Homo sapiens: one gene and its partners. The protein of the gene in region 3 interacts with the protein of the main gene of each other region in a biochemical or structural test. Each region holds a gene or a part of one and is shown on either strand. Other genes may lie near its edges. The genes, in order: SNTG2, FRMPD1, RTKN, GRIP2, TJP2, LIN7A and MFHAS1.

Region 1 (3,500 bases), about 73 Mb from region 3:
AATGATTACTGCTATCATCTAAAGAAAACAAGCAGAAAGGTCACCTTGTCCCAGAAACGCTCTTTCACTTTGCCTTTTAACGACTTGAACCTTTAGTGCTGATGGTTTCTAAGTGGCTAAATGCCACTATACATTTGAGTAAGTCCCTGAGATGAAGGATCCTATGTTTAGTAATTTTCTTTCCAGCATGTAATGTTCTATAATGGTTAATGAATTGGATGCTTCAAATATAAAGGTTACTTTAAGCATCAGGAATCAACCATAATTCCAATTTAGGGTGCCCAATTTGAGGGGAAAATCACAGCAGCCTGGGATAAATGAGAATAAACATTGGCATCAGTTTCTATGAAGATCTGGGTGTGACTTCATTCTGTGGACTAAGAGATCTCAGTGTGCATTAGTTACAGGGAAGCTTCGTGCTCTGTGATGGCATGCCAAGGAGCCTGGATACATTTTGACAACGTGAATGAAAGATAAATAACACAGAATAGTTTCACATTCAAGGTATATATGTATATTTAAATGAAGTAGCCATCTTTAGTTACTAAGTTCACACTCAGCATTCTCCGCGCTCAGCCAGGCGGGAGCCCTGGACTTTGGTGTGAAGTCAGAGCTCCTCTGGGATGCGCTGCCTCATTTATCTCCTGTCACTCTTCATTCCTGCAGCACACATCCTCCCTGAAGGATCATCCCGCTATTTAGGATAAGGAGGATTATAATGCATTCTTCCTCATCCCTTCACATGGTATACATTCAAATTTGTGAGTGATGTATTTGCTGTTGTCAGGAAGAGAAAAGCAATTCAGACACACAAGCTGTTTTATATTCTCCTTCGGACCATCAAGTTTGAGAGGAAGAACCATTAAAGTGCCTTAAAATATTACAAACATCCAAGTAACTGCACGACACATTATACTCATTTGTAAGCTAGGTGTTCTGTCTCCCGGAGCACAGGCTAGAAGTGTCATCACTTCTCAGGAACTTGAGCGCCACATCGGTGGAGTCCCTTCCTGGAAAGCGATGCAGCCCGTTCCTCACATTCAATGTAGACACAGACACAAAATCCTCTCCTCCCCTTCCCTTCCACTACAGCTCATATTTATCCACGGAGCGCATGACTCCGTGCGAACGATCATTTCCACACAGTAGCTCCGGTGAAAGATTCTCACCTTCTGAAGATTCCTCTTTTCCCCCGATAAACTGCTACATATTCCCCAATGCTATGTCTCAGACACCCGAGCAGGTGTAGGTGAGAAGAGTGTGAGTTGTTCACTTACCCCGGTTCTCTGAACTTCCATGAACGTGGCTCTTTGGAAGGACTTCTCCCACATGGCCAGCTCGCTGCCAAGCTCCACGTTGAAAACATGGCTCTTCCCATGGCCGGCCACGATGCTGAAGCAATAGGGCCTCTGGTCCTCAAAGTCAAAATCTTGAAGACCCAGATACAAGTTTGCTTGCAACCAGCAGTCCTCTGTGAGCCAGAACTGAAAAACAGAGCATGGATTGGAAACGTGCAGCGCTGGAAGGTCATTCCCATGCTGAGGGCCCTGGTGTGGGGAGAAGGCAGCGTTTGCGTGATCTGGGAAACGGTCTCCTGGGTGCAGACAAGGAGGCAAATTCAGAGCAATGAGCCCTCTCATGCACAGCTGGTGCGGAAGTGGTCCACAGACAAATATCTGTAAATAAATTTTGTCAAATGCTTAATTCTCTGTAAGTGCCTTTCCCTTAAAATACTGGTCACCACACACTTTCCTGTTTTACGGTGAAGAGAAAGATGAAGCTGGGTGTGGTGGCTCACGCCTGTAATCCCAGCACTTTGGGAGACTAAGGTGGGTGGATTGCTTGAGCCCAGGAGTCTGAGACCAGCCTGGGCAACATGGCAAGACCTTGTCTTCACAAAAATAAATGAATAAATAAAATACAACAAATTAGCCAGGTGTGGCAGCACACGCTTGTAGTTCTAGCTATTTGGGAGGCTGAGGTAGTAGAACGGCTTGAGCCCAGAAGCCCGAGGTTACAGAAAGCCAAGATCACACCACCAATGCACTCCAGCCTGGGTGACAGAGGGAAACCCTGTCTCAAGAAAAAAAAAAAAAAGATAAAGATGAAAGTCTTGAGACATTGATGCTTGTGTTTATCATAAAACCAGAAAACACTGAAAATACCACCACCACTCTAACTAAGCGTGCCCCCTGCGCCTCCGAGTCTCTATAGAATTACTGGCTCTTCCTCTCCTTGCGGGTTCATTGTCCTGAGATAAAGGACCGAGTGCCCAAAACGCCTCTGAAGCATGACAAGGCACCCGGCCACCCAGGAGCTCATTCTGCCAACCCAAAGGCCTGACAAAGGGAATGATGTAATGATGTTGTTCCATTTCTGGTTAATCGTTTAACCCAGAGATGTAAGTTACTTACAGCACGTCTATTAATCACTCGGCGATTCGGATGCTGCCAGCCTGTGCTGCATGGAGCAGCCTGGGGAGCTCCCCACTTCTTTCCCCCATCTGCAAGGTTGCACCCCACTTCGGGATTCATTTTATCAAGGGCAGAAGAGAAAGACTGGGGGTCCCAGTTGTCACAATTACTAGGTCAACAGCATGGAGGTGCATGGTGAACGCGCACTCAATACCTGGCTGGCACCTCTCTGTCTCTGTCTGTCTCTCTCTCTCTCTCTGTCTCCATTTCTATGTCTCTGTCTCTCTTTGTGTCTCTTTCTCTCTCTCCATTTCTGTCATTCTGTTTCTCTATTTTATGTCTGTTTCTCTGTCTCTCTCTATCCTTCTCTCTGTCTCTGTCTGTCTCTCTCTGGACCCACCTCAGTTCTCAGCTCACCCATTCATTTACTGGTCCACAGATCCACCCTGAAGAGCCCCCACCAGACACCTTCCTGGGACGCTGCACCCCAACATCAATTTTGCTGCACCAGTCTCTCCCCAGTGAAGGGAAACAAGGGGAGACACCTGGGCTGGGGTTTCCAAAGTCCTGAATGAGAATGTGGTGTTCACCCACAGCCCTGCATATGGCAGCAGAAAGGAAGGGGAGCTGCCCACCTGCTGGGTCTTCCCATCATGATTCTGAGATATCTCCATTCACTTGTGCCAACCAGCCAAGCTGGACAGTCCCCACTCACACTTACGCTCAAGGTCCAGTCCCAAAATCCACATGAACTCAGCAGTTGGCCAAATAGTTTTACTTGAAATATGCTGACACATGCACTCTAGGCACAGGTTTGAGGTAAAAGCTACGACTGGTGTGTCTCAGGTGGGCCTTCTGGACTCTCCGGGGGGATGCCCTGGCTCTCCTGGCCCCGCAGATGGCTCTGCAGGATGACCCTCTGATCATGGAGAGCATTGCACATTTATCCCTGTGCATCATCCAGACATCAAATGCCTTGTGGTGTGTGCACGTGAGAACATGTGTGTGTGTATGTGTGCACATGAGAATGTGTGTGCACACATGAACATGTGTATGTGTGGAAATGTATGTGAACATGAATGTGTG
Region 2 (3,500 bases), on a different chromosome or scaffold from region 3:
GCTGTCTTGGGACTCTGCGGTTAAGGTCTATCATTTATTCTCATCCATTTACCAAACACTTTCAGGAACCCTGCCTAATGCAATAGGCCCTCACTTATCTGAAAATCATCTCCCTCTCATTTATAATGATCTCCAGTTTCAACAAGGATCCGGAAATATGAAAAACTGTCTCACAGAGCCAAAATGTAAGTGACAAGCACAAGTCCAAAGTCTCGTGTACACTATCCACCAAGGATCCCCCCCAGGCCCTGACTTAGAGCAAATTTAGGATCTGTATGAATAGATGACCCAGCCCACACAACCTAGAAGCAGAGGGAGTCTTTCTTCTAGGCCAGCATGCAGGTAATACTGAGCTGGAGCAGCAGAGAGACCTAATGAGAGGGAAGAAACAGAAAACTGAAAATTCACACTAAATAAAGCCCATAGCTCTTCCTGATTTTTTTTCAATCTTTTATTTATTTATTTATTTATTTATTTATTTATTTATTTATTTTGAGGGAGGGTTTTACTCTGTCACTCAGGCTAGAGTGCAGTGGCATGATCTCAGCTCACTGGTTCAAGCGGTTCTCATGCCTCAGCCTCTTGAGTAGCTGGGACTACAGGCTCGTGCTACCACACCCGGTTAATTTTTTGTATTTTTAGTAGGGATGGGGTTTCTCCATGTTGTCCAGGCTGGTCTCAATCTTCTGAGCTCAAGTGATCTGCCTCTCAGCCACCCAAAGTGCTGGGATTACAGGCAGGAGCCACCGCACCCAGCCTATTCCTGATTTTGTAAAAAACATTTAGAGCTATAAAAAGGTTTTTCTAAATGCAATAAATAACACTCTATACTAAAAGTCAAAAATCAACATTTGACATTACAGGTGCAGTGCCTCATGCCTGTAATCCCAGCACTTAGGGAAGCTGAGGCTAGCTAATCACTTGAGTCCCAGAGCTCAAGACCAGCCTGGGCAACATGGCAATACCCTGTCTCTATTAAAAATACAAAAAAATAGCAGGACTTGGTGGTGTACACCTGTGGTACCAGCTACTCAAGAGGCTGAGGTTGCAGTGAGCTGAGATCATGCCACTGCTCTCCAGCCTGGGTGACAGAGCGAGACTATCTCAAAAACAAACAAACAAACAATTTGGTGTTTTATTTAATGTAGTAGGATAAATGCTAATAATAGTTATCAGGGAAGGAAAAATGACAAGAGGAATAATGAGCACAGGAATGGAAAAGTACCACCTTATTATTTTTTTTTTGTTTTTTAGCAGATGACATTCACACAGAAAATGATGAACAAAGAAAATTTTTAGTGCCAGAAGATAAGTTTAGTGGAGATGCAGGATAAAAACACAAAACACAGCCACAAAAAGGATCAAACAATTCATTAAAAGCAGATTAGCTGAATGTACATTCGGTGTTAGGCATTCTTAATGAGTGAATGCTAAATATCTAGAAAATGCCAAGAAAGGATTCAAGTAACAAAACTAGTGATGTGTACTAATGTAATTCAGGGGAAGAAGGATTTATTTAAAGAAAATAATATAACTTTCCTTAAAGCAATAAAGGAAAACACAATAATTGGGTTAAAGTTATGCTGGGTTCCTGGATGGAAACACTAAGTATCAAAAAAAAAAAAAGTTCTAAATTAAATAGAGATTTAATGTAATATAAATAAAAAATTCTTCCAGATTAAAAAACAACTTGACAAATTGATGGTAATCACAGCAATAACGACAATAATAATTAATAACATTTATGAATACTAACTATATTTTAGGGAGTGATTTAACATTATATATATATATATATCTCACTCAACCCTCAAACTTTTGAGGTGGGTACAATTATTATTCCTGTTTTATAGGTGAAAAGACTAAATCTTGCTCTGAGAGATTTTAACTTGCTTAAAGTCATACAGCTGGGAAGCAGGTTTCAAATTGGGGCTACTTTCTTCAATAGGCACACTAGCACTGCTTCTAGAGCAGTGCGGTCCAAATGAAATATACACACCGCATACGTAAATTTAAGTTTTCTAATAGCTACATAAAAACAGGAAAAAAATAAGTGAAATAAATTTTAATAACATATATTTTATTTAACTCAATATATCCAAAATAGTATCATTTCAACTCGTAGTTAATACAAAAAATTATTGATGAGAGATTTTGCATTCTTTCATATTAAGTCTTCAAAATCCAGGGTCTATTTTACACTTACAGCGCGTATCAATTTGAACTCTAAATTTCTATCAGAAATACTTAGATTTCAGAAAAGTTACAGTTGAAAAGTAAGCACTCCTTTCAGACAAAGGCAATAATCAAAACTGCATAGTGTGGCTTTCACCAATGAAACTGAATAGAAATTCTAGAAAGTCCTTTAAGTGTCTGGAAGTTTCTTAAAAGACTAAACATGGTGTACAACATGATCCAGCAATTGCACTCCTGGGTATGTACCGGAGAGAAATGAAAATAAATGTCTACACAAAAACTTGCACATGAATATTTATAGCAGCATTTTCTGTAAATGTCCAAAAGTGGAAACAACTCGAATGTCCATCAACTAATGACATGGATAAATAAAATACCGTATTCCAGAACAGAATATTTGGCAATAAAAAGGAATGAAACATGGATGAATCTGGCTAAGTGAAAGCCAGTCACAAATGACCACATATTGTATGATTCCATTAACATGAAATATCTAGAACAGACTAATCTATAGAGACAGAAAGTAGATTAGGGGTTGTCCAAGGCTTCAGGGAGGGAGGTTTGGGAGGTTTGGGAGTCACTGCTAATAGGTATAGGTTTCCTTTGTGGGGGATGAAAACCTTCCAAAATGGACTTGTGACAGTTGCAGATCTGTGAATACACTAAGAACCATTGAATTGTACACTTCAAATGGGGGAATTGTATGGTATGTAAATTATCTATCAATAAAGCAGCTGAAAATAAGTAAATTTAAAAAAATCCTGAAGTGGGGAAAGCTTATAATACAAATATATGAAGAATGGGCATAAATACACATAGTAGATACCCACATTTCACATGCTCAAAGCAAGTGAATTGACAACTCTCACATGAAGAAAGCAAGCTGGAAATTAACACAGAAAATGTACAACCTTATCAAAGAAGCACAACTGAAAGGGCTATGGAGTACTATTATGTGTCATACCAAATATGAATAAAAATAATAAGGCCCAACAGGTACTAGTCCTGAGATTAAAGAATGACAATACAAACTGGCAATTCAATCTCTCTAGGAAATCATTGGTGAACCTGTACCATGAATTTAAATTTTAAATTTGATCTTCTGTTACCATTTTGACCGGTATTCCTTGAACTGATGACCACAAAGGAAAAAATATCATATTATTTATCCTGGACCATGAGTTCCTAGAAGACAAGGGTGGTACCCATTCATCTCCATGTCTCCCATGCCTAGTAAAGTTCTAGAACAGAGTATGAGTTCAATAAACCCTGGCTCTTAAGTATTCAAAAATATCAATCTCAGC
Region 3 (3,301 bases):
CCTGAGGGTACCACTTGCAGTGGGCTGAGTCATGCAGAGAGGCTGAGCTGCCAGACGGCAACACACGCTACCATAAAGGGGCAGCCAGGCAGGGTTCTCCTCTGGGGGAGGAGGAAGTGCAGGGTGAGGTAGGGGAATGAGAAGGGGACCATCCCACAGCCCCTCTTCTCACCATCACATGTGTATGTCCCCCATGCACACACATACTTACCATGACTGGCAAGGGTGAGGTCATGTGTGCGGAATCCATCTTGCACTGCTGCCAGGGTGAGTGTGGTGTGAGCCAAGAGGTGGTAACGAGGACCACTGAGGGAGATAGGAGAGAGCATCAGCCAAGGGAGGGGCATGTTGGCCAGCAGGAACTCTAAGGGCTGAGCAGATCTGCCCCATTGTTCAGACTGCCCCACAGAAAACTCGCTTGCCTCCCCAGAGGGTTAGGAATGAACATTTACCGAGCTCCAGCTAAGTGTCAGGACGTATGCTTTATATGTTTTATCCCACTGTATTCCTATGACAGCCCTGTGAGGTTGGTGGCATTCTTCAACTAGATGAGGCAGCTTGAGGCTTAGAGAGGTTAAGAAACTTGCCCATAATTTATAGGTGGAAAGTGGGGGAGTTTGAATTTGAACCCATATCTATGTCCAAAATCAGTATTCTGTTCACTACCCAAAGGTTCTCAAACTGCTTCTCAGAGTCTCAGTGGTCCCATGCGGTGTCTCCAGGTGCATTTAGGTACCACCATAGGTCCCAGGGTACTCTGCTCCAACCAAGAAGCTCTGCTCTATCCACATAAAATGTATTTGCTAGGCTGAGTGCTGTGGCTCACGCCTGTAATCCTACCACTTTGGGAGGCCGAGGCGGGAGGATCACTTGAGCCCAGGAGTTCGAGACTAGCCTGGGCAACATAGTGAGACCCTGTCTCTAAAAATAAAATGTATTTGCTGCTGCTAAAAAGGTAAGACCCCAGGGCCTAAGTCTCCCTGCCTTCCCACTGGTCTTCTGGACTGGCTTCAGCCCAGCTCTGGGGCGTGGGCTGGAATGCCTCCCAGCTACGTGGCCACTGCTCATTCATATCTGTCTGCACATCCTGGCAGCAATGCAAAATGGGTTCTGCACACTCAACACAGTTCAAAGGTCACCTGTGGGCAGAATACAGGCAGCTGAGGGTGGTGTCGGTGTGCAAGGCCTTACCCAACAACTGGGGTGGGGAGCAAGATGGGACTGCTCCCTGAACCCCCAGCACTGTCCAGCGATGCCCGGACACGCCTCCCTGAGGAGCGGCCCAGGGAGCTGCTGAGTTTGGTGGCAAGCCTCTTGGGGCCGCCAGTCAGGGCCCCCTCTTCTTCCACACAGGCCCCATACAGCTCTAACCGCAGTTCAAAGTCTGGCCCCGCCTCAGCGCTGGTGGGAGGAAGAAAGGAGGGTGGTCACAGGAAAGTCCAGGGAGGCAGAGGGTAGGGGATGTGGGTGAGGCAAGTGCAGGACAGCTCCACAGAGAAGGCCAGGTGCCCCTCCTCTCCACCCTGCCCCCATCCCAGCTTCCTCCCCTGGAACTCGCTCATCCAGAACTGGAGCAGAGTGGAGGAAGGAGGTAGCCACAGTGTGAGGTACTCACAAGAGCACATTGCTCTGAAAGGAGATGTCTGTGAGGGTCCTGTCCACTAGGATCATCTCTGTGTCCTGGATGTGTTCCCCCAGCTGCAGCAGCAGGAACACAGCCCAGCGGTGCAAGTCTGGGGACAAAGGGCAAAACAAAAAACACGTCCCACGAGAGCCTCCTACTTCAGGGTCATTCCCCTGAATTTGTCCCAGGGTGTGTGGAACTCACCACCTTTGTTCTTGAAATATTCTGTGTCCTTCCACATGAGTGGAATCCGGAGGTCTAAGGGGCAGAGGGGTAAGAATAGATGTTGAGATGGGGCAGGAGGCCGTGTGCTTGGGCAAGGGGTACCAGCAGCTGGGGTAGCTGTGCTTCTTACCAGAGATGCAGACCCGGCCGCGGCAGGGGGAGCGCTCAGCGGGCGGGCCACTGTCAGAAGGCCTGTGGATAAATCACAATGTCCTGGCCTGGCCTCTAGCCACTATTCCCCCTTGCTCTGGTCCCAACGACTCTAGGATCCCCCTGATCCCAGCGCCTCAGCCACCAGGTTCCCAGCCAGGCCGACAGGCAGGGCTGAGGGACTATAAGGGAAAGTTGTTCATTGAACCCAGCAGTTTGCCAGGCTTGGGGACACCAGGGACACTCAAGCCACATTAACTCACACATAAGGCACAAGCTCAGGGCTCCTCTCTCCAAGCAACCTCCCTGACCACCTCTCCAGATCCCTGCCAAGGACAGGTGCAGCCTTGAGGGGACAGGTGCCCACAGAAAGACTTCATTTCCAGGGCTCTCCATTAAACCCCTGGCTTAGAGGGGTCTCCAGTCTTTATTTTTTTTTTTTTTAACAATAGGAAAGCTGCTTATTTCCCACCATCCCATCACTTCTTTGATATAGGAGGGTACTGGGTCAGAAAATAATTTGGCCAACATTTGTTCAAAGGAAAATCACCAATAGGGAAGAGTTACGTTCCATTCACTACAGACCCTTTTCCTTCCCTACCACTCCCCAACTTTGATTTCTCCTTTTTCCTCCTGGCCTGATATGGTGTACCCTACTAGTGCCCCAAGTTCTGCAGCTCCCCCACACCCCACTGCAGGGCCCGACACCCCACCTTCCTTCCCTCCCTGCCCATCATCAGGACTCACCATGTGTCCCTTTCCTGAAGCGACTGCCAGTTCATCTGTACTTACTCATAATGCCACTAAAGTAATTACTGACTTAGTAGAGCCTTAAGCTAAATGATGTGGCACTAATGGCAATGTGTTTAGCTGCCAGGCACTTGGGGTGTACCTCAAATCACCTGTGTGGGCTGTGTGAGGACTTTGGCAGGACAGAGTCTGTCCATGCTGCCTCTCAGAGGCTGTCCCCCCACCAGCTTGCCCTTCCTCTAGCTTCATGGGATAGCCATACAGTGGGTTTTCTGCCTTCTTCTGGTAGCTTCATGGGTGAGCTCCTGGCAACCTCCTCTTGTGTCAGCCTTCATGGCTGGAATGGGCACCATACCTGTGAGGGGCTGGGACTATTTCCCCTAGCAGCCTCAGTGGAGTAAGTAGGCCACTTTCCTAAAAACCAGTTCTCCAAATGACCACTTTATCCAAATTGGCATATTCTTAGAATAATTTGCCAAATATTTTCCCCAATATTTTGGTTTTATCATGGCATCACTTAAGTCATTATAGACTTGTCAGATCAACAGTCTA
Region 4 (3,500 bases), on a different chromosome or scaffold from region 3:
TATACTCCTATTAATGCAACCAGTGATGAAACCAGCTTTGGGGCATCTATGCCAGCAGACTCAATTCAAACCCTCAAGTTGTTTCTCTGCCCCACCTTCCCACCCTCAGTTGCTGCTCTTAATAATTTGAGCTTCCCTGGGCAAATGAGGATTTGTCCTAGTACATTTTAGCCTGCTCCTCCCAGCCTGCCCAGGGCTCTGGTCCCAGGCCTCTCAGGCCTCATGACTGCCCAGGTTTGGGCCCTGAGATCTACTGAGGGGACCCACCTGCCTCTGAGGGCCTCAGTGGCCGCTGACTCTGGGGCACAGGCAGGATCTCCAGCCGCACCTTCTCTGAAATGCTGGCCAGGAGCTTGGTGGCCTCAAGCAGCGAGCAGTGTTCCATGCTGGTGCCATCGATGGACAGGATGTGGTCTCCAGGGTGCAGGGCTCCGCTCCTGGCCAGGCAGGGGAGTGAAGGCGGAGGCTGGTCCAGGCCAGACAAAGCTCTGGGCCGCCTCTCCCCTGCACACACCTCCATGGTGGCAGCACCCAGGGTGTGCCTTACCTGTCCACCACGCTGGCTGGCTTGATGCGGTCGATGGTAATGACTGACTTGTTCCGGAGGGAGGTGGTGGTGAGCGAGATCCCCAGGGCAGACCCTGGCGTCTTGACTATTTCCACCATCAAGGGTCCCGAAGCATTAGCCACCGTGTCTGGCATGACGGAGAAAAAAAGTTTGAAATGCAAATACCGAGCACTTTCCTCCCCAGCCTCACCCTGCTATCCTGATTTAATCCTTGCTGCCTGGAAGAAACTGTTATACCCATTTGATTAACATAATTTTTTATTCCTTTTCTTTCTTTTTTTATCTTCTACCAAATGTTATATCAATTTGACAGATAAGATAGCAGTGGAGGAGGGGCAGGAGCTCAGGTCTGAGGGGCTGTGATCCCAGGGCTTTGCTGGGTGAAATGAATTTGCTTGAGTTTATGAAGAGCCTGTGGTATACCAGCACTAAACTGTAAAGTTCACTACAACCCATCCCCATCTCAGGAAATGGCACCTCCATTAACACACCCAGTGGCTGGAAATTAAAACTTTGGCCGCACCCTTAGCTCCTGCCCTCGCCCACCCATGTCTAAATCTCAGCAGATCAGGCCAGCTGGACCGTCATCATATTTCCTGAATCCCGTGCCTTCTCCCCTCCTTAGCCACCAGCCTGGTTCAGTCCCTTAGCTCTCGCTTGGACAGCTGCTGCCGCTTCCTATGGCCTCCCGGCTTCCACCTCACCCTGCTCTGCCCTTACCTCCTTTCACTCACCTGTGCCAACCACGGCAGCCTCCTCACTGTGACCAACCATGCTGGCCATGCTCCTGCCTCAGGGCCTTTGCACTTACTCTTCCGCCCTCCTGGAATGCTGTCCCTGGACATTCCATGCCTCGCTCATTCCCTCACTCCCCTAGTGAGAGAGCATCCCCCAGCCTGTCCCATCTCTCTCCCCTGCCTCTTTTCTTTTTTCCATAGCACTTATTGCCAACTGACATACACCATATCTTATCTATTCTGGATACTGTCCTCTCTCCACCAGAATGCCAGCTCCATGAGAACAGACACCTCAATTCTGTTGTTCTAGGCTGGATCCCCAGCACATCAAACAATGCCTAGCACATACTATTTACTGCCCAGAGAAGCTGTGACTGGCCCAAGGTCATAAGGTCATGCAGCCTTTGCAGTGGTAAAGATCCATGGCCACTGCCACCTCCCCCCATCCCAGGCCTCCTCCTGCCCCAACCCACACACTCAGGCCCCCAACTCACCAGGGGTGGCCACATCATACTCCACCTGAAAGAGTGCCTCGTGGCTGCACTGCCGCAGGGTGGCCAGGGCGGTGGCATGGCTGGCCCCGTGCAGCGGGATTCCATCGACACTGAGCAGCCTGTCGCCCACCTTCAGGGAGCCCTCCCTGTAGGGAAGGGCCAGTCACCAGCCTGGCCCGGCAGCAGCACTGGGCACAGCCTGTCTGGGAGGGCGCTGGGAAGCGGGACATGGAGGATGAAGAAGCAGGGAATGGGTGGGGGAGGAAGGGGAGGAGGGGACGGGTGAAGGGGCGCATGAGTGAGTGAAGGAATGAGCCACTCCAGGAGTGGGGAGCTGCATAAAGCAAGGGGGGGATGAAGACAGGATGGGGTGGCTCTGCCGCCTGCCACTCCTCTGGGTGTGCAGTAATTCACAGACTCAGTGCAGAACCCTGAAATGTCTGAGCTGGGGGTGCTCTTCAAGCGTCACCCCCAACTCCTGCCTCAGGGACAAAGGACAGCACCAGGGCCCAGAGAGGGTGCAAGCTGTGCCCATGCCACACGGCATTGGGGGCTGCTCTGAGCCGTCCTGGTCCCTTCCCATTGCTCCACCCTCACCCTGGTTTCTCAGCGGTGATTCTGGCCTGATGACAACCCGCGCCTGGGAAAGAACTCAACAGGGGCCAGGGGAGGGGCCCCAGCAGGGTTCACCTCGGTTTGGGTCGCATCCCCAGCCTGGAACGCCTCTCCCAACAGGTGGCCAAAGCTATTCTCGGGGGTTCTATGAATAGCTCATCACAGGGCCCTGTCCCAAGGACAGATTTAGATTTCTGACAAGGCCGTTCCAGGCTTCTCTTAAAATGGCCAGGAATCTCCCACTGGGGAGGCCGAGGGATCAGGGGCTGGGAACTGGACATGTTCTTTCCCCACATTCTCTCCTCCTGGCCCTTCTGGGCTGGGCCCAGGCGGGGCCGAGCTGGGTCGATCAGCCAGGACCCAGGAGACTGAGTCACAGACGGCTACAGCAGTGGCCAATCAGCGTGCCCCCAAATCTCTCATAGCAACTCTTAGGGACCATTCCACAGACGGGAAAACCAAGGAGCAGGAAAGGGAAGAACGACACCAAGGCTGCCCCTCTCCAAACACCCCAACCCCTGAGACAGCAGTATGTTGGGGAAGAAAGGGCTCGAGGTTTCCCTCATTTGGGGTTACATCCCGGTTCCATCAACAACTCCCTGAATGACACCGGGCAGGGAGTGTTCCCTCAGGGCCTCGATCTCTTCATCTGGGGAAGGGGCATGGTGACCCCACTCCACCTTCTTCGCAGGGGAGTTGGGGCAGGTCAGTGCAGTGTGTGGATTTCTTCTGCCTCGGCTCACCTGTCGGCAGGGCCACCGGGCCGCACGTAGGTCAGGACAAGCGGGCGGGACTTGTGCCCATCTTCATGGGCACCTCCTGGACAGGATTTGACAAGAAGCAGGAATCATCCACCCACCCCTTCCCATCCAGAGGCTCCCACACAGCCCCTGAGCAGGCTCCTTCAATAAAACCTGTTTGAGGACCTTGTCCTTGCTATCCATGGACCCTCTTATGAGACACCAACAATAAATTCGCCCTCCCAAGAGATGGTGCAAGGGGTGGGTAACATGACCAAAGTCTTCTCTCTGTTAAATGGCTTGCCTCCCTTCTGTGACCTCACCTTATTTCCCCTTTTCCCTGATC
Region 5 (3,500 bases), on a different chromosome or scaffold from region 3:
AGAAATTTAACTTCCAGCTGGATAGCTACACTAAATAGAAGAATGGGGAAGCAACAGCCTTCCTTACTTCCAGCTAAGCTCACAGCCTCCTCTTCCTTTACCTTCTATTTCTGAGTCACTGTCATTTAATGACGGGATGTTGATGAGGGTCTGCTGGCTGTCTCTCAACACCACTAGCTGTAGTTTTCCTCTTGACTTTTCTATCAATTTTCGAGCATCCGTTAAAGACATGTTCTCAGTTACAGTCCCATTGATCTGTGTTTATAAAAAATGGTAATGTTAAATGCAATAAAATTATTCACAGTAGAAAATTCATATTTTCCCCTTCTAAAAATGTAAAGGCTTTGCTCAGATATTCAAACAGATATTGGCTTTAGGATGACTCAATAAAAATGAATTGTCGTTTAAATTAAATATAATCCTGCATGCCTGGATCCCAAATACAGGTGTAAGTTACTCTGCTAATTTATTTAACTTCCAAGCTCAAGACAACGGTTTGGTTTACTACTGGAACGTGTTTCCTGACTGGAGAGGTTTACAAGACCTATTAAATATTCAGCATTCATATATCACCAACTTTCCTTCTCATCTTTCCTTAGTTTAGGGAATAGGGATCTAAACTTTAAACAGGAAAGAAGAAAATATTCATGGAGTTTTTTTGTTTTTGTTTTCTAAACTGACATTAAACTGTTACGACCCTCAATGTCTGGTTTTTCTGATAAAAATCGTCTCATTATGCTGCTCTTGCCACCTCTGTCTTACCACTGACTCTCACTGGATCTAAGTCTCACTGTGTGGGTGCTGAATGTGGACATGCAGGCGATGAACGGCAGTATGCACACTACCGTTCTCTGCCCCCATCTACCCACCTTGAGAATTATGTCTCCTTCGTGAAGGTTGCCATCTTTAGTTGCCAGACCCGTTCGGGTCATTTCCTTTACGAAGATCTGACTCCCAAGCCGGAGACCATACTCTAGGAGACAAACACATAAACATACACGTATGTTATCAATTTGTTCAAAAAACTTAGTCTGGTTTATAGGACTATTTTAAAATATGTATTAAAAAGTTAATTTTGTATATGGGAAATTCTGTAAGATGACTGGCCTGAACTCTTCAAAAAAGTCAATGCCATAAAAAACAAAAAAGGTAGAGAAACTGTTCCAGATTAAAAGTTACATAAAAACCAAATGCAATGCATGAACTACCATAGGTCCCTGATCCAGTGGAGGGTGGGGGAAGAATGAGTTACATCATTTGGAGCAATCTGAAAATGAACTATAATATATGAAAGGGATATTAATGTTAATCTTCTTAAGTGTTATAATGGTATTACGGTGACTGATGTAGGAGAATGTTCTTATCTTTGGAAGATACCTCTGAAATATTTATGGGTAATGGTGAGTTGCCTGCAACTTACTTAAATAGTACCAAAAAACCCACTGAGAGAGGTAACAGGAAGGGTGATGGAGTAGAAGGAAAGAAAAAAAAAGGAGGAGGAAAAAGAAAGTGTGGCAAAATGTTAACAACTGGTAAAACTAGATGAAGGTTATATGTTTATTTGCTATAAAATTAACATTTTCTTTTTCTTTCTTTTTTTGAGACAGAATCTTGCTTTGTCACCCAGGCTGGAGTGCAGGGGCATGATCTCAGCTCACTGCAACCTCTGCCTCCCAGGTTCAAGTGATTCTCCTGCCTCAGCCTCTCAAGTAGCTGGGATTACAGGTGCCCACCACCATGCCCAGCTAATTGTTGTATTTTAGTAGAGACAGGGTTTCACCATGTAGGCCAGGCTAGTCTCGAACTCCTGACCTCAGGTGATCCACCCGCCTCGGCCTCCCAAAGTGCTAGGATTACAGGTGTGAGCCACTGCGCCTGGCCAAATTAACACTTTTCAAATAAAATGTTGGGGAGAAAAAAAAACAATTCAGCACACCTTAATAGGCATGTTCTGCTGACAATGAGGCTGTCTACAGGAAGGCACTGCAAAAAATCTAGCATTTTAGATTATATGAAGCTTGGCATTGAAAGGAATTCAGTGGGTGAAGAAAAGGGGTAAAGAAGTCAGGCAAAGTAATTAATAAAGCATTCAACTAAAACCAGCATAGCTTTGGGAGTTTATGGACTCTGAATTGCTATCAAAAACAAAAACATTGTAATTACTAAGTTATGCATATTTTTAAATACTTTCAATGCTACTTAAGACTCTTCTGGTTTTACTTAATAAACTTGTAAAAATACATTATTTTAAGAATAACTGTTCACATTTTAGGAAACTACCACAACAGAGCAGGTTTTAAAACAGGCACAAAATTTTTTATTATTGTTCAAACTAAAAATCTTATAATTACAAAACAAAGTAACTTTCCACAATTCAGGAAAGGTATGAAGTCAATTTTAAAATAAGTTTTAAATGATTTACGGTAAACTTGTCAGCCAGATCTTACCACAAAGATTAGAAGTGTTGTGGCCCATGCCCTAGTCCTTTAGGAAGCTGATAGTCAAGAATGGAATAAGGGAAGGGCAAAGCTACTTTCATGGATGGCGAGCCCCTAGTGGTCAAACAGCCTCACAGCCCAGAACAGAAGGCTGAGTGAGACAAGCTTGAGTGATAACATCTCTCTGGCATTTTTCAACAATTCCTCAATCCTCTTAAAAAATGCACTCATTGGCCAAGCATGGGGGCTCACGCCTGTAATCCCAGCACTTCGGGAGGCTGAGGTGGGCGGATCATGAGGTCAGGAGATCGAGACCATCCTGGCTAACACGGTGAAACCCCGTCTCTACTTAAAACACAAAAAATTAGCCGGGTGTGGTGGCGGGCGCCTACAGTCCCAGCTACTTGGGAGGCTGAGGCAGGAGAATGGTGTGAACCCGGGAGATGGAGCCTGCAGTGAGCCGAGATCGCGCCACTGCACTCCACCCTGGGCGAAAGAGCGAGACTCCGTCTCAAAACAAAACAAAACAAAACAAAACAAAACAAAACAGAAACGAAGCCTCCTAACACACAAGGTTCTTGTGAGGACTACGTAAAAGAATATTCAACATAGCCCTTGCATAGAGCAGAAACTCAACAATGATTAGGCGGAGTACTGTCCTCCACTGTGGTTTTCCACTTGAGATGCAGCAAGGCCACTAGGAGAGCTTATTAACATAGAGACTCTGAGGGCCCACCCCATGGTTTCTTTTTTTTTTTTTTTTTTTTTTCAAGACAGAGTCTCGCTCTGTCACCCAGGCTGGAGTGCAGTGACATGATCTCTGCTACTGCAACCTCTGCCCCTTGGGGTTCAAGCTATTCTCCTGCCTCAGCCTCCAGAGAAGTGGGGATTACAGGCACCCACCACCACGCCCACCTAATTTTTGCATTTTTAGTAGAGATGGGGTTTCATCATGTTGGCCAGGCTGGTCTCCAACTCCTGACCTCAAGTCATCCGCCCACCTCGGCCTCCCATAGTGCTGGGATTACAGGTGTGAGCCACTGCACCCGGCTCCACCCCATG
Region 6 (3,500 bases), on a different chromosome or scaffold from region 3:
TCTATGAGTGAGAATATGCGGTGTTTGGTTTTCTGTCCTTGTGATAGTTTGCTGAGAATGATGGTTTCCAGCTTCATCCATGTCCCTGCAAAGGACATCAACTCATCCTTTTTTATGGCTGCATAGTATTCCATGGTGTATATGTGCCACATTTTCTTAATCCAGTCTATCATTGATGGACATTTGGGTTGGTTCCAAGTCTTTGCTGTTGTGAATAGTGCTGCAATAAACATACATGTGCATGTGTCTTTATAGTAGCATGATTTATAATCCTTTGGATATATACTCAGTAATGGGATCGCTGGGTCAAATAGCATTTCTAGTTCTAGATCCTTGAGGGATCGCCACACTGTCTTCCACAATGGTTGAACCAATTTACACTCCCACCAAGAGTGTAAAAGTGTTCCTATTTCTCCACATCCTCTCCAGCATCTGTTTCCTGACTTTTTAATGATCGCCATTCTAACTGGTGTGAGATGGCATCCCATTGTGGATTTGATTTGCATTTCTCTGATGACCAGTGATGACATTCACGTGTCTGTTGGCTGCATAAATGTCTTCTTTTGAGGAATGTCTGTTCATATCTTTTTCCCATTTTTTGATGGGGTTGTTTGTTTTTTTCTTGTAAATTTGTTTCTTTGTAGATTCTGGATATTAGTCTTTTGTCAGATGGGTAGATTGCAAAAATTTTCTCCCATTCTGTAGGTTGCCTGTTCTCTCTGATGATAGTTTCTTTTGCTGTTCAGGAGCTCTTTAGTTTAAGTAGATCCCATTTGTCTATTTTGGCTTTTGTTGCCATTTGCTTTTGGTGTTTTAGTCATGAAGTCTTTGCCCATGCCTATGCCCTGAATGGTATTGCCTAGGTTTTCTTCTAGGGTTTTTTATGATTTTAGGTCTTACATTTAAGTCTTTAATCCATCTTGAGTTAATTTTTGTATTGTATTGAGTTTAATTTTCATCATGTTTTAAAACTTATTATTAACATGATTAATATACCAATACAGTTATTCTAATATCTTTTAAATAATCCCTGCTAGGGTATGCTGTATTAGTGTTTTTCTACATTATTAATATTAACTAGTTTTATATTTAATTTTCCAGAGAGTTTTTATAATATTTTGATAATTTAATCACACTGCTCATGATGAATTTATTATTATGTTGGTGCAAAAGTAATTGCAGTCTTTGATATTACCTTCAATGGCAAAAACCTCAATTACTTTTGCACCAACCTAATAAATAAAGTCCTCAATCTTTTCCAAATAAAATACTCTTAAACCAGATTATTCCAGTCAGACACCAGTACAATCAATATGCAATCAGCATTCTAATTTGATTCAATCTAATAAATGAAGGCTACATTCATTTCCTCTAAATTTTATCTCTTTTATTGTAACCTGCCATTCAAGCTAGGAATAATTTTAGAATATTGGTAGGGTTGGCCAAATTATTTGTTATTCCTCCTAGCTTAGTCACCTGTAAAGTTTGTTAAAATATATTCTATGGTGCTCATTCAAAATATTGGTAACAGTGCCAAACAAGACCATGAACCAAACTTCCTTGGAGAAGTGTTTCTACTAGAAATCCAACAATGCAATCATCCACTTTATGTATTTCCACATTTTCCACAAGGTGTCTGTGAGAGTTGTGGGGTCATGAATATATAATGAGACTATGACATATGTCTGAACTTCTGCAATGTCTACTCTTAGTGATTTTCCACGTAGCCTCTGGGATCACCACTTTCTTTTCTAAGTGCCAATATCTCATTCTTTTAAATATATATATGTACACACACACACACATTTTATATATATTTTAAAATATATATATGGGCCAAGAGGCAACAAATAGATTGCCCTATAGTTTCCCAAAACACCTTTGTCATCTTTTTGGAAGCCAGGTTATTTGTCCATCAGCAATTACTGCTCTTCTCCAATTTTCCTCAAAAATCACTTTCAGCAGTCCCTCAACTATATTCCCCAATTTTTTCTTCATTATTGTTAAATAGACCCAGCTGTGATTTCATGCTATGTTTCTCCATCTATCTTGTGGGTTTAAATCTTATAGCCATGTTGTGACTCCCATTATTCTATCTTTTTTTAGTTAAAGGTAATCCTTTGATTAATTTAAAAACAAAAGATGTTATATTGAAATATAACTATCTCCACACTGGGCAAGTAAACAAAAGTTGCACAAACAGTTAGACTTGGACTAGCTATATTGTTTCTAAGGAAAATTACCATCAATGGAAATTAGACACCCTAGCTTTATGTCCAAGATAGGTAGATACTTGAATATAACTACAAAATAAGTTTCAATCCCTCATGATTTTTTTCAAGTGGTTTTCAGGCATATTTATTTTTATTGGACAAGTGTTTGAATTCAGTTAGTATATTACTTAGCAAAATTCAATCTTTTTTTTTAAAGATCTCAATTGAATAAACCAGAACTAAGGCATGGATGAAATTAACACAATTTTTAAGGTTAAGTTCACATTTGGTAGTGCAGAGTGAGTTCAAGTTAAATCCATTTTAATTTGTTTATTAGGACATAGTTCTGTCATTCATGTATTTATGGTTAAAAAAATTGAAAAGCGTAGCTTATATATATGTGTGTGGAGGGGGGCAATTCTATAGCAACTCCACCCATTTAAAAAACCTTTTCAGTTGTATTCTGACATTAGCTCGTGCGATTCAATTCATAAGTTAAAACAGCAGGGTAAATGCAGACAACTGAAACAGGGCTATGACTATCAAAACCAACACCTCACATTCTTTCTTGGCCCTTGAGAGCACTACACTTGTAGGAGCCAGCTACATACACAGAGAGGCAAAGTGACATCCTAAGGTAGCCACTACTTTTCATTATTTTAGGTTAGAAGGCTTTTGTTTTGTTTTGTTTTGTTGCATTAAGAATAATCCATGACAGCTAAGTCTTGCTAAGCCAATTTTATTCATTCATTCACTCATTCAATCAACAAATACAAAGAGCGTGCCAACTATGTGCCACACAATGTGCTGGGTTCTACATAAACAAACCCGACATGGTCTCTGACCTGATGGAAAGTATATCCTAACAGGCAAATGTCATGACTTTAAGAAAAGAACTCAAAGAGATACTGGCATTGTGCATATAACACCATCTCTAATACCCAGGACACCTTCCTGTTTGATAGTACTCCCTAGATGTTTTCTTTCCTCTACTTAAGAGCTAGGCCTTAGTTGTGATCCCTGAAAAACAACACTCATAAGCAAGAGCATTAATTTCATAACTGACAGGAGCACACCAAATACATTTCAGGGCTCGGATGAATGACACACCAAACTAGAAAGGATTCACCAAATTTCTTATTTTTGTAACCAAAATGCTTTAGAGATTTGAGTCATTCTCTTTGTAACTTTTAATTATCAAATAAAAAACAGGCTGGGTGCAGTGGCTCTTGCTTGTCATTCCAGCACTTTGGGAGGCTGAGGCACGCGCATCACCTGAGGTCAGGA
Region 7 (2,777 bases), on a different chromosome or scaffold from region 3:
CACGTTAACACCCTGGCTTTGGTCCTTCCTTATCTTCTCTTTGCCTTTATTTAAACAATATGGAGTACTAAATCCTCTGATGGGTACCTGAGGGGCCTGCTCTTCCAGTTTGCAAATAGGGCACCCTGAGGCAGTATGTAGCAGGACTTCTGCTAAGAGCCTTTGAAAGAAAGATCAGGGGAACTTCCAAAGCTACCATAAATTCAACAGCTGTGACTTAGGAATATAGTGGATCATTGAAAAAAAAAAAAAGATTCTGATTTAAGAGAGCTGATCTTCAAGTTATATCCTCAGCCTGAAAACAGAGGCAGTTTTAAAACAGGGATTCTTTAGTTTTCTCTTCGGAGACCAAACAGATGAGAGCTACCACCACCCACCTCCCACAGCTCCAACAGTACCACTAAGGACTAAAACTATAAAAGTCATTCCTTAACTGATAGAATTAAAAGTAAAAACAAATGAACAAAATCTGAAATAATTAAGTTCTGGGAATACAACTGTTTAACCATTTCTTTGTATTTTTATTGATTTTTCTTTTTTAATTTCTGCCCAGTTACAACAACGAAATGGGAAACCACAATTAAAATTCACAAACCATGGCATGAAAAACAACACGCACCCCATCAGGAATTACACCAAACCCCTTTTCCTTTTTATTCATTCAAAAGAGAGTCCAATACACAAGTGTCAAATATGAGCACTGTCATTTTTTTTTTCTTAGAAGGGGGAAAAACATTTATTTTGGCAGTGCTTTGACAATTCCAGGAAGTGGTTTTGATACCACAAGTTGCAGGAATAGAAACCCTAACAAACTTGGAGGGCATTTGTTTGAGAGGCAAGGGACGCCTTGCTTAGAAAACATTCCTCTTGTGCTTAGTGAATCACCTATCGCCTCGGTGGGCTGCTGTGTCTTTCCAGGTGCTGAAAGAGAAAACGGAATTTCTTGCATAGACAGCTGAAGAGTCCTGTAGAGCAGAGTGATTTTTGTATCTCCAACCCTCCTCCCAACTTGAAACAAATTCTCAAGCTTCTCTGGAGCATCTTTTGGTCACATGACCCTCGATCATGGTAACCCTTTTGCTAAGACACATGTGACACCAAGGTTTCCTCTGACACTGCTTCTCTAGGGTTCAGATGACAGCATAAAACATCACTGGTCAAAAATATTAGATATTAAGAATGTGGGCGTTTATGTTCGTAACAGCAAATACTTTGTAGGGTGTGTCACCCAAAGGAGCATTTTTGTCATTTAATATGGTCCCCGGGGAGTTAGCCCAAAATCATACAAATAAGCCTTTTTCTAAAGACAGGTCAAAGTTGGTTAATTTAACAGTTGAGGAACCGTCTCATGCCAATTAAAAAATTCTTACTTCCCAACTATTCAATGGTCCAAAAAGCAATTAAATGTGACCATTCAGTTTTACACACATGCACACACACACACACGGAGACGCGCACACACACACGAGAACTGTGACAAAAGGATTCACCAGATTAATCTTGTGACTGTGTTCTAAAAGAAAATGAAATCTCAAACTTGAGGTGTCCTATTCAAGTATTAAAAAAATGCAAACATCGTCTGATCCCATTCGATTTTTATCATCATAAGAAATCATTCTCTGAACTGCAGGTTCTGGAGTCAGTGAAATTAATGCCTGGGGCACAAAATATTCTACAAAAATCGGTTTGTGATTTCTAGCAGGGCAGTCGCTTGCTCCTTATTTCTTTTAAAAAACATGTTGAGACTTTGTATACTGTAGCCTTCCAAGAGTCAATACTTTACAAAAGAAGTAAAAGAGTAGCGAGTACCAGCAACTCACTCTTCTTGTCTGAGGCTGGCGAGAAGCAGTCAGTTTTATACATTTTCGATCAACCCACGGAGGAGGCAAATGTAAACAGAGTTTTTTACACTCTCCGAAAAACATGTTACTACTGTAGCATATGCTGTTTGGCCCAATTAAAAGTAGAATGGAGAGCAATTTGTTTGGTTGGCTTTTTAAGTTTTACCTTGTGAAGATTTTAAAACAAGGGTATTACTAGTTCTTGGCAGGAGACCGTCCAATCAGAGGCTCTGTATTTATAAATAACCCGTGTGGGATTATGCTCTCCAGTGAATGTAACTGGAGCCTAAATTCACAACCTTAAGATCTGACAGCCAGATGTGGAAGGTCTACAAAGAGCTCTGCTAATAAGTAATATGTTTGCAAAGTGCTCTGCTAAGTAAGGTACTTATTAAGCAGAGCACTTTGTAAGATTCAGAACTGACTCCTGATTATCTTAAGCCATTAAAAGACTCAAGTTTTGCATGGACTTTTTGTCCTCTTTGGCCCCTGAGTGTGCCCCATCTCTGCCCAGCACTAATAACACGTTGGAAGAGCAAAGGATTTCCCACCAGCGTGCCAGATGATTTATATAGGCAGGGACCTTCATTGAAAAGAAGGGAAGGGACACTGTCTTAAATGCACATTTAAGGTTCTTTCTGATTATTGGCAATCTCTATGAACCAACACTTAATCCATGGGCTAACAGAGAGATTTTTTTTTTAATGTGAAGAGGATTAAAGAATAAAGAAAAAACAAAAAAGTCTTATACTAAAATAAGAAATCAGCCCCATCTTGGCACAGTTCTCATGCAGAATATTGCACCCAGTGTGAACTAACGCTAGAAGCTTCAAACTGTATAAATTTAAATGTATTTGCATATTATAAAAATAAAGATAAACATATACATATTTTACACTAGTTATGGAACAGCAATGAACGTCAGTCGATCCCTCT

Evidence for each region.
Region 1: the proteins of RTKN (region 3) and SNTG2 interact in a test that uses a peptide from one of them, tested with the Homo sapiens proteins (one large-scale study listed by IntAct).
Region 2: the proteins of RTKN (region 3) and FRMPD1 interact in a test that uses a peptide from one of them, tested with the Homo sapiens proteins (one large-scale study listed by IntAct).
Region 4: the proteins of RTKN (region 3) and GRIP2 interact in a test that uses a peptide from one of them, tested with the Homo sapiens proteins (one large-scale study listed by IntAct).
Region 5: the proteins of RTKN (region 3) and TJP2 interact in a test that uses a peptide from one of them, tested with the Homo sapiens proteins (one large-scale study listed by IntAct).
Region 6: the proteins of RTKN (region 3) and LIN7A interact in a test that uses a peptide from one of them, tested with the Homo sapiens proteins (one large-scale study listed by IntAct).
Region 7: the proteins of RTKN (region 3) and MFHAS1 form a complex in vitro, tested with the Homo sapiens proteins (one large-scale study listed by BioGRID and IntAct).

What each region holds. Positions count from the first base shown.
Region 1 is NC_000002.12:1,265,349-1,268,848, reverse strand, and holds part of SNTG2 (gamma-2-syntrophin), read right to left. Parts: intron 1,485-3,500; coding exon 1,278-1,484; intron 778-1,277; coding exon of another isoform or gene 754-777; exon of another isoform or gene 1-753. UniProt on the Homo sapiens protein: Adapter protein that binds to and probably organizes the subcellular localization of a variety of proteins. May link various receptors to the actin cytoskeleton and the dystrophin glycoprotein complex.
Region 2 is NC_000009.12:37,702,954-37,706,453, reverse strand, and holds part of FRMPD1 (FERM and PDZ domain-containing protein 1), read right to left. Parts: intron 1-3,500. UniProt on the Homo sapiens protein: Stabilizes membrane-bound GPSM1, and thereby promotes its interaction with GNAI1.
Region 3 is NC_000002.12:74,428,637-74,431,937, forward strand, and holds part of RTKN (rhotekin), read right to left. Parts: intron 2,042-3,301; coding exon 1,980-2,041; intron 1,883-1,979; coding exon 1,829-1,882; intron 1,734-1,828; coding exon 1,616-1,733; intron 1,402-1,615; coding exon 1,192-1,401; intron 307-1,191; coding exon 212-306; intron 102-211; coding exon 1-101. UniProt on the Homo sapiens protein: Mediates Rho signaling to activate NF-kappa-B and may confer increased resistance to apoptosis to cells in gastric tumorigenesis. May play a novel role in the organization of septin structures.
Region 4 is NC_000003.12:14,519,843-14,523,342, forward strand, and holds part of GRIP2 (glutamate receptor-interacting protein 2), read right to left. Parts: intron 3,234-3,500; coding exon 3,158-3,233; intron 1,946-3,157; coding exon 1,800-1,945; intron 1,781-1,799; exon of another isoform or gene 1,352-1,780; coding exon of another isoform or gene 1,303-1,351; intron 696-1,302; coding exon 548-695; intron 438-547; coding exon 268-437; intron 1-267.
Region 5 is NC_000009.12:69,222,777-69,226,276, reverse strand, and holds part of TJP2 (tight junction protein 2), read right to left. Parts: intron 974-3,500; coding exon 870-973; intron 256-869; coding exon 102-255; intron 1-101. UniProt on the Homo sapiens protein: Plays a role in tight junctions and adherens junctions. Acts as a positive regulator of RANKL-induced osteoclast differentiation, potentially via mediating downstream transcriptional activity.
Region 6 is NC_000012.12:80,927,935-80,931,434, forward strand, and holds part of LIN7A (protein lin-7 homolog A), read right to left. Parts: intron 1-3,500. UniProt on the Homo sapiens protein: Plays a role in establishing and maintaining the asymmetric distribution of channels and receptors at the plasma membrane of polarized cells.
Region 7 is NC_000008.11:8,782,854-8,785,630, forward strand, and holds the end of MFHAS1 (malignant fibrous histiocytoma-amplified sequence 1), read right to left. Parts: 3' UTR 501-2,777; downstream 1-500. UniProt on the Homo sapiens protein: Probable GTP-binding protein. Functions in innate immunity and more specifically the inflammatory response as a regulator of the Toll-like receptor TLR2 and TLR4 signaling pathways.